2 separate regions of the Homo sapiens genome follow, and region 1 is linked to region 2. The links come from fine-mapping of genetic effects on gene expression. A gene starts in region 2. The other region holds a variant in brackets. All regions are shown on one strand. Distances are from middle to middle. Region 1 overlaps DNAH6 (dynein axonemal heavy chain 6). Region 2 holds the start of DNAH6 (dynein axonemal heavy chain 6).

Region 1 (5,000 bases), 160 kb after region 2:
TTCTGGTCACCTTCAGACATTTGGAGTCTGGGCCAGTCTAAGCCTCAATCCAATACCCAATTCAAAGTTCCTCCTCTCATCTGTCCTAAGCCAGGTTTGTGGCTCCAGGTACGTATGGGAGGTGAAGGGGTCATGGGATGCTCTTCACTCCTCCCCACCCTCCCTGTAGGAGGCTGGAGTATGCAGGGAATGGGAGGAGAAGAAGGAAAGGACAAGTTTCTTCTCCCTAGCCAGTGTTCAGATGGGCCTCTCTGTGGCTGGTCCCTGCTTCTCTAGCTGGCACTGAGTGGTGTCTATGCTGTCTGTGAGGCAGGTTTTCAGGAGTGGGCTCTTGTAAGCAACTCCCAAAAGAGCTGTTTGCAAGCCAGGCATTGACCTTATCACTGGAAGTTTCCCTGAGGGTGGGAGTCAGGACCTCAGCCCTCACTCTCCAGCAGTCCATCTGCACCCTCTTGCAGCTGGGGCCCCACTTGCTCAGTCCACAGTCTCTGGGGTGGTGCACCAGCCAGGGCTCAGGCTTGGCTGCCTCCCACATTGCCCACCATCCAGCAGGCCCTGTCATGCCAAACAATGGTGCTGCCAGCTGCTTCACTGCCTTCTGTCTCTGTCCCCTCTCTCCTGCTTAGGTAGGCAAAGGGCAACAGATGCCAGTCTATTTTCTGGTGGGGGCCCCAAATTCTTACAAAGGTTTATCTTAGACCCCTTCCTTACCCCCCACCCCTTCCTGCTGCTTGGCTTCCAGGGGGCCACAGGATGGAGTGGAGCACTCAGTTTGCCTTGGAATCACCTCCTGTAGTAATCCCAACCACAAGGACATGGCTATTTGCCCATCGGGTTTCTCTTTCCTCTGCTATCACTCATTCCTTTTTCTAATGAGTGTGTATATTCATTTAAATGTGGCATTGTGCAGCCCCACTGCACTGGATTTCCCTTTGATGTGATCAGGATGCTTTTGAATATCTAATCTGGTTTCCCTGTGAGGGTACTGTGATGACATTTATGAAAGGAAACTTTGGCATTCTTCCTCTTCCTACTATGGAAAGAAAATGATGTTCCTCATTCATGCCTAAGCCACATGGTTGCTGAGGGCAGTGAGTGTGGCTGAGACAGAGAAAGGTTCACTCCTTGCTGGAGAGAGGCCACCATCTTGTGCCCTGACAGTGAGGATAAGGGGCCACCTGGCATGACAACGTGGACGTCTTGACCAGGACCACATCTTCCTGCAGGGGCCTGGGTGGGGCCAGAAGGAAGTCTCTCCTCCTCCAGGCAGGACTCAGAACTGAGCTCTTTATGACCTGTAGGATGTCATTGAGTCCAAAGTCATACCCTAGCTTTGTCTTACATTTTCTAAGGGAAAATCATAATTCTTAAATTAAATTCATTTTATTTCCCTAGGAGCACCGGGAAACAAACGAATTGTGATTTTTGTTGATGATTTAAACATGCCCAGACTGGATCGCTATGGCTCTCAGCCTCCGATTGAATTACTTCGGCAGTATCAAGATTTTGGGGGATTTTATGACAGAAACAAACTGTTTTGGAAAGAAATACAGGTTACTTTAGCTTTTAAATTACTTGGTGTGCTTAAATTTAAATGACAAGGAAATATGATGTATAGTTTGTGAGACTACCATAACAAAGTACCACAGATGGGGTGGCTTACACAACAGAAATTTATTTTCTCATAATTCTGAAGACTAGACGTCTAAGAACAAGGTGTCTGCAGGATTGGTTTCTTCTGAACACTCTTTCCTTATGTCTTTACATGGGCTTCTCTCTGTGTCTGTCTGTGTCCAAACCTCTTCTTATAAGGACACCTGTCATACTGGATTAGGGCTTACCCTAATGGCCTCATTTTAGCTTATCTCCTCTTTATTTGGACTATCTCCAAATACAGTCACATTCTGAGACCCTGAGTTAGGACTTCAACATATGATTTGGGGACAGGGGACACAATTCAGTCCATAACATGTGGCCTCAGTTTTTCCTCCATGTAATTCAGTGTATTCAGTCTATATTGAGTTTTTGCCATGCTTGGTTCAGGAGATCCATGAACAAGTGAAACAGTCCCTGCCTCCCAGAGAGCTTCAGAGGGTGGACAGACATTTCTAATGCAGAGTGGTGAGAGGGGAGAGACAGGAGGGATTCAGGGGTGGGGCTGGGTTGAGGATGGGAGAAGCCTCCCAGAAGTGATGGATTCTGAAGGCATGCATGCCAAAGCAGGGAAAGGGAGCGTTTTACACCCCAGAAGCAGGGAATGTAAAATACTACGGTGGTGTGAATTATGAGCACCAAACCAACAGGAGAGGCAGAGGTCACATCCCATGGTGCCGTGGGCCCATG[AG/A]GAGGAATCTGGATTTATCCTGTAAGTGCTGAGGAGCTGCTGAAGGAAATGTTATGGAAAGATCCCCTTGGCTGCAGGGGAGGGATGAGCTAACGAGGAGGCAAGACCAGAGGCAACTGCAGTAGCCTAGAGGACAAGAGATGAGGGTCGAGCCTCCTGTGCTAATGTGTGTGGTCAGAAAGGTTTAGAAGCCAGAAGGCAGATCAGCAGGACTGGTGGTGTGTTAGTCAGGGTTCTCTAGAGGGACAGAACTAATGGGATAGACATATATACATAAAAGGGAGTTTATTAAGTATTAACTCACATGATCCCGACGTCCCACAATAGGCTGTCTGCAGGCTGAGGAGCAAGGACAGCCAGTCCAACCTCCAAAACTGGAGAACTTGGAGTCCGATGTTCAAGGGCAGGAAGCATCCAGCATGGGAGAAAGATGTAGGCTGGGAGGAAGATGTAGTCTGGAAGGCTAGGCCACTCTCTTTTCACACTTTTCTGCCTCCTTATAGTCTAGCTGCATGGGCAGCTGATTAGATTGTGCCCACAATTAAGGGTTGGTTAAGGGTGATTCTGCCTTTCTCAGCCCACTGACTCAAAAGTTAGTTTCCTTTGGCAACACTCTCACAGACACACCCAGGATCAATACTTTGTATCCTTCAATCCAATCAAGTTGATATTCAGTATTAACCATCACAGGTGGGGTATAGAGTCAAGAGGGAGAAGGGGGAACCTAGGTTAACTGTCCCATTTCTGTTCTGGAGAAAATTTCTGTTCTGGAGAAACCAACACCCTTGACAAGAAAAGGGCGGGGGGCATGTTTCGTTTTGCTCACAATAAAAACAAATAATTGTACCAGGCACTATTCTAAGGATTTCCCACCTACTAGCACCCAACATCCCTACAAGATGGATAATGCTATCAGCCCTGTTTTATAGATCAAGAAATAGACCAAGAGTATGGAGTAATGTGACTGGTCCAAGGTCACACTACTGGCAAGTGGCAAAACTGGGATTAGAGCCCAGGCCATTTGGCTGCTGAATATGTGATTTCAGCTAAGATTCCTCCCTGCCCCCATTGCTAAGCTCCAGTTCCCTGGGAAATCCAGGTAGAGCACTTTCTGTCTATCAAAATGAGAGCTTAAACAAGGCATAAACATTCTTTGAAGTGAAAAAATAAGATGAGTGTAAGAGGCAGAGGGATAAATGGAGACTGAAGAGAGGGTCAGGCTGTGCAGAGGTGAAAACTGATGGGGTCACAGGTAGTAGGTCTCGAGAAAGGGGCCTTGGTCACCAACACAGGGAGCCCCGGATGCAAGATGAACGCATATTCAGTTCCTGGGAACTTTATCTTTATAAACAAAGCAGTCTTTTGCATATAAGGCTTTTTACTTTCCAAATAAGTTTATCTAACTTTATCTTCCCAACAACGCAGTGAGGAGAGAATATCACGTGCCCTTTGCAGGTTTAGAATTCCCCTGACTCAGTGCCATGGGGATGAGGGTGGGAAGGGAATGACTGCCAAACCTCCCACCAGGCCAGCGCTCAGTGGCTCCTCTCTGCCAAACAAATCACATGGAAATGCCTCTCCCTGGCACTCTGAGGCTCCCACATATGGCTGTGAATGGCTGCTCTGATCCGAGGGTCTTTTGCTGCTCCCTGCACATGCCCCACAGTCCCACTGAGGCATAAGGCTTGCTGTCTTCTGAAGGCACCCATATCCCCCACGGCATGCCTTTGTGATGGTGTCCTCTACCTGGAAGGGCCCTGCTCTCCAGCTCTTCCCTTATAATCTTCCTACTCCTTCAAGGCCCATCTCCAAATAGCCTTGCTCACAGGGCCTTTCCTTAAACCCCCATTTCCAGTGTGAGCTCCTCTTTCACCCTCATGGAGCACTGTGTGTCTTTATGGCCTTCACATTCTTTCTTGAATCAGAGCTGTTGATGTGCTCATCTTGTGTTGCATTCCTTCATGTTAGACTCTGAGCTCCTGACCTCCATCTCCCTCATTTTTATGGCCCCTGCTAAGCTTAATACCTTGTATATAGTAAGCCGTTGTTTATTGGAACTGATTCACGTAGAGACAGGGACTTGTCCACCTCAAGCCTTGGTGCTTTAGATCTGGGATCAAGAGTGCCTTCCTCTTGGTCTTCAGATTCTTCTTCCTACCAAAGGAATTGGCACACACTCTTCCCTTTGCCAGAAATGCACCTGCTTCCTTCACCCCTATGGCCTTGTCTTCTGCTACTATCACCTTCCAGCTCTCCACTGCAAGTGCCACTTCCTTGGCCAAATCTTCTCTGACTCACAGACTAAGTTAGGTTCCCCCAACAAGCATTGCCTCAACATTATATCCCTTTCCTTCAAAAAACTTACTGTGATTTATATTGCAATTTTGTTTTATTTTATTTTGAGGTAGGGTCTCATTCTGTCACTGAGGCTGGACTGCACTGGCACAATAGAGGCTCACTACAGCCTCAACCTCCCAGGCTCAAGCAATCCTCCCACCTCAGCCCCCCGAGTAGCTGGGACCACAGGCGCATGCCACCATGCCTGGCTAATTTTTTGAATTTTTAGTAGGGACTGGGTTTCGTCGTGTTGCCCAACCTGGTCTTGAACTCCTGGACTCAAGTGATCCGCCTGCCTCAGCCTCCCAAAGTTGCATAT
Region 2 (5,429 bases):
ATGAGGTAGATTTTTTTAAGTGTACCATTTTGGTTCACTTTTTATCTATTTTTTTTTAGTTATTTTCTTAGTGGTTGCCCTGTGATTACAATTAACATCTTAATTTATAATTAATTAAGTTTTTCTTCCTGTAAGTGGACCATACTTTCTTTGTTTGCATGTCTCATACTTTTGGTTGAAAATTGGATATTGGATATGTTGAATATTATAATATGGTAACTCGGGAAATCAGATTCTCCTGCCTTCTAAGAATTTGTTGTTTCTGCCTGTTGTAGGTTGTATTTGTTTGTTGCTGACTTTTGTAAACTATTATTTAAAGACTGTATGCTTTGTCACATGTGGTTACTGAAATCTCTAAAGTCACTGAAGTCTTACAACTTTTGTGGAAGGATGGACTTTTAGAGTTCCTTACTCTACCATTTTTGCTAATGTTATTCCCATAATTACTTTTAAATTTTATATTGTCATTATCCTTGAACATTTCATAAATATTTTATGTATTCTATATTTAAGAGTTCTAATATATAATGTGTTTGCCTTTTAAGTCTTGTTTATTCTGCTAACTCTTGTTTGGAGTGGCTTGTTTTCTTGTATGCTTGGGTTTTTTTTAATTGTAAATTTATATTTGGCTGAAACTAACTTGTGAGAATTCTAAGGACTCAGAGTTGATGATGCCTTTCTCTTCATGGGTATTTCCTAGTAGCTTGCATTTTTTTCCCCAGACCACATAGGTAGTGTAAATGAAAAACCCAGAACTAGTTTTGTCTATACTCCTAAATTCCTGGGGGAGACTATTATATTTTTAACAATTTTTTCCCACCTGGATCTACAGGTAGAAATATGCTGGTTTTCCTGTAGGTTTTTGTCACTGCCAGTTTTTTCCTAGTCCAACCTATTACTGAGGGGATAATTCTTCCAACAGTCTCAGATGTGTGTGGCAACTGTAGTTTGCTCTTCCATTTTGTGTAGACTCAAGCAAGGCCTAGTCTTCCATTTCTCCTCAGCATTAATCCCTGAAGCTATATGTTCTTTGTATAGGCATTTGTACCCACAGCACCCACAGCTTCCATGTTATTTATTGCTCTGGTTTCATCTGATTATTATTTTGACACTTGAGGATTCCCTTATTTCTGTGAGCCCTGCTATACTCCACTATATATCCAGAAGCAGAATTCTATGATTCAATAATCTTGGGCTCAAATTCATATAGAAATTTAAGTTGATGGATCTGGATTTGTATCTCAGCTCTGCCACTTACTACCTCTGAAGTGACTTGGGAAAGTCACACAACCTCTTTAAGCCTCAATTTCCTATCTGTGGAATAGGTATAATAATACCTCTAACATAAGGTTATTGCAATGATTAGTGGAATAGCACCCATCACAAATGGCCTGGTATATAAATCTTAACCTAATGCTAAAAAAATTTTAACTGCATTTCCTTTTACTATTAAAGATGTGAACTTGTGAGTAACCATTTGTAACCTACTTCTTTAGCTGTGAAATGGGAATTTCATGTTTGTTAGCAGTACTTAAGAAAATGAATGGGAAATATAAAGCACAGTACTTGGCACATAAGAAACAACCAATGAAATGTAACAATTATCTATAAGAACTATAAAAATAGCAGGCTATACACAAAGCTGCTACATTGATTTAGTAAGTGGTCAGTTGATAATGAAGATAACATCTTGCCACATTAAAAAATAAGCTTGGAGAGATTTGATGAGTAGTGTTTCATATAGTAATATCTTTGTAAAACTATGTCTGTGTCTTCCAATCCTCCCACCCCCACTTCACCACAGTCACACACACACACACACACACACACACACACACTTCTTAGCTTTTGGAATGCTTTCAGCTGCACATGGTAACAGTTGTGTACAATCCACCTTAATCTAAAAAAGGGAGTCTAGGATTGAGGAGCAATAGATTTGTCTCCATTGCATAAACTTTGAAGGGAACAGATTAAAATTTTCACTGCACATCTGAAATGAAATCTATTCTGAGGATGTGTCTAACATTGCTTGTTATTATAACTTTATGCTTCGATGTACTGAGTTGGCTTTGAATTTCTTTTTCCATTATTAGTTTATATCAATGATTGCATTTTACTAGCTGACTAGTTTTGTGTGTATTTTTCATCTCTGGGGAATTAATCTTTATTTTGTCTACATTTGAAGTTTTTCAGAATTTTTAAAATTTTTTCTAAACTGACTTTACTCTCTTGCTGTTTCCAGTTTCTCATTAGGGATTGGGAGATCTGCATTCTAGTTTTGTCTGTGGCACAACTAGCTGCCTGACCTGGAGTAAAGCACTTGCTTTCTCTGGGCTTCAGTTCCCTTACAAATCAAATAGGGGAGTTGGACTATGTGACCTGTAATCTCCATTTTAGCTCTATCTGTGATTTAGAGAATCATACTACCATATCAAATACATAACTGAATATGTTAAGATTGAGAAGATGCAGGCTGTGAGTACAATAATGTAAAGAACTTCACATAGAGCAAGAAACAAATATCAAGGTAACAAAGAGCAACCGAAAAGAGCAAAAGAAAATGATGATTATGTCATTTTGGAGACAAGGTTGAAAACCAGAGCTCCTCCATGTGGTGTAAGGATTCATCAAGACAGGTGAAAGGATTTCTTCCCCTGATCAGTAACTGGGATAAGGCATCCCGAGTAAGCAACAGGCCCTGGCCTTCGATGGGGTCGCTCCATACAAAATTAGCAACAGTCACTTGGGAACTTAAGTGAGATTAAACGCCAGAATAAGATCCAGGGTCTGCTTTGGTAGAAGGGGCACGGGAACCAAGTAATACGGGCTCATCCTATGCCTGACACCTAGGTTACCTTCCAAGTGGAAAAGGACATTAGTTGGAAGGCCACAGTGGAGTTTAAGGGAAGAGGAGGCCACATTTCTTGAGCCTTAAGACACTCGGGAGGAGGTTGGCGGGTAGGGCAGGGATGCAGAGTGGTTGCTTCCTTGGAGAGTGGGACCTCATTTGTCTACACAACCCACATTCCTCTCCTGAAATTCTCGACTCTTTCGGATAAATTTCTATTAAAGTGAACGTCAAGTCAGTCTTACGCCTCTTGAAGGAAAACAGAAAAGAAATTCCTGTAAGAGGTTGAGATGGGTGTGAGTGGTCGATAAGCAACGAAGCAAACAGAATTAACCACCTCCTTTGGCTGCTCTGCCTACACCTCCTGGCACAGTACTCAATTCCCAGCGCAGAGGAGGAACCAGGCTGTGCGGCTTCTCCAACAATCAGCGAAGTAGGAAATGTTTCGGAGACACTAATTGGCTCGATTGCCTGGCGCGCTCCTGGACCGAAAGCTGTGGCTGGTTGAGGCGTTGCCTGGCGACGTGTTACTCAGTGGCGCAGTGCTTCCGTAGAGGCCAGCTGGTTGCTACGCAGCAACAGGAAACATTCCGCGCTACCGAGTACTTTCTACTCCCGACCAGGCATTGCTCTCTCTGGAGACCCTCGGCGGTGGTTGCTGTATTTTGACTTGGTGAGTCCTGGGAACCGACCCTCGGGCCTGGGCTCCGATTTCTGGGCCAGAAACAAAGTCTGACTTTCGGAGAACATAAAGGCTCAAAGAGGCAGAGAAAATCAATGGAAAGGCATTTCAGTGATTGTCTGCTATCCGCCCATCATTTTAGAGGGGTGGAAAGTGAGCAATAGCGATATCAAAAGACTTGTCCAAGATCTCACGCTGAGTGGTCAAATCTGGACCTGCGCTGTTAAATACGGTAATCTTTAGACCTCGTGTGGCTAGTCTGAATTGCAATGTGCTCATATGTAAAAAGCACACTGGATTTTGAAGGCGTGGTACCAAAAGACAACATAAGATATCACTATAATTTTTATACTGTGTGTTCAAATGATTATGTTTTGTATATGGTAAATAAAACATATTATTAAAATTAATCTCACCTATTTCTTTTTTAAAAATGCTATTGCTTGAAAATTAAAATTGCATACAAAGCTCTCATATTTCTATTGGCCAGCACTGATCTATATAAAACCTAGGTCTGCCGACACCTGATTCAAGACCTCTTGTGCTAACCCTATTTTGGAAGGTGTTTCGAAGTATCTCCACTCATCTAATGGGGTGAAAGTGTGCGTGGTGGTGCAGAGTGCAAGACCATTACAAAAGGCTCATATTTCTAGTGTTTTAGGACCTTGCTACTCAAAGTGTATGAATCAGAACCTTCATTTTAACAAGCTCTGCAAGTGATTGTCCTGCACGTTAAAGCTCCAGAAGCACTGTGTAAGAAATTAGCCCTCAATTCTTTTTTTTCCCTTTGTTTCTTCTTGAGTACCTATACTGTATTTTTCAGACTGCGTGTACTAGAATTAGCTGCATTTTGAACAAGTTCCGCAGGAGATGAGAAACATTGATCTCAATACTAATTACATTTCCTTTTGTCCTTCCAAATCTAGACCAGTGTGGTCTCCAGATGAGCAGCAGCAGCAGCATCCGCCAAGAACTTGCAAGAAATGCAAATTCCTGGGTTCCACCCTAGCTACAGGGGTTCTTGAAGCCTAGGCACAGTTTCTAATTTTTTATTCCTTTGGTTCAAGTCCTCAGTTCGGGAAGACTGGGGTAACTTTGATGGGTTTTATTTGAGGGAAGTGAGCGAATTCAACTCTTCCTAGTCCTTAAGTCCCTCTCCAGTAGCCTCCTTCCCCAATCCTTTTGATCTACTTTTCATTTTCTTTTTCCTCACCTATTCTTTTCAGGAGTAAGGATGACTTTTCGGGCCACAGATAGTGAATTTGACCTGACAAATATTGAAGAGTATGCCGAAAATTCTGCACTTTCAAGACTGAATAATATAAAAGCCAAACAAAGAGTGAGTTATGTGACATCCACAGAAAATGAATCTGATACACAAATCCTAACGTTTAGGCACATTACAAAAGCTCAGGAGAAGACAAGAAAACGACAGCAGCCTATAAAACTAGAGCCTTTGGTAAGTTCAAAAACCATTGTTTTAGCCTCTGTAGCCACAGAGGAAGTTGTAAAATTGCTTTGGAGGATAGAAGTCATGTCCAGACTCTGAACTGACAAAGAAGGAATGAAAAGCTAAAAGATAATAACTGCTTATGTAGTTGTAAATACGGTAAATATTTATTAAACAAATATTAAGTTCTAGGCACTGTTTAAGTTGAAGGATACAGTGGTGAACAAAGTTTTCAGGCAGATAAGTCCTCTCTAGGATTATGTACAATACAGATACTTAACTATGTATGCTATTAGGCACTTTTAGATATTAGGGTACCATTTAACACTGAGAAGTTTAGCAAATGTTATATTTAGTTATATAGTTTTATTATTTTCAAAGTACATGCCTTTGTATTTAAAAAATTGTGTGCATGTTGAAAATACTTAATTTTTAGAAACCATTTATGC

What was found. PIP is the estimated chance that this variant, and not a neighbour inherited with it, causes the effect. A credible set is the group of variants that fine-mapping cannot tell apart.
Region 1: its variant is the best candidate, but not a certain one, in a credible set for the expression of DNAH6 in NK cells (Schmiedel 2018, PIP 0.64).

The regions. Positions count from the first base shown.
Region 1 is chr2:84,670,932-84,675,931 of GRCh38, forward strand. DNAH6 (dynein axonemal heavy chain 6) reads left to right here. Exons shown (of 77, transcript NM_001370.2): 40 at 1,396-1,553. Among named protein-coding and RNA genes, the nearest start is that of DNAH6, 160 kb to the left of the region's middle. The variant AG/A (reference allele first, on the strand shown) is at 2,344.
Region 2 is chr2:84,513,063-84,518,491 of GRCh38, forward strand. DNAH6 (dynein axonemal heavy chain 6) reads left to right here and starts at 3,436. Exons shown (of 77, transcript NM_001370.2): 1 at 3,436-3,521; 2 at 4,757-4,989. The coding sequence starts at 4,765.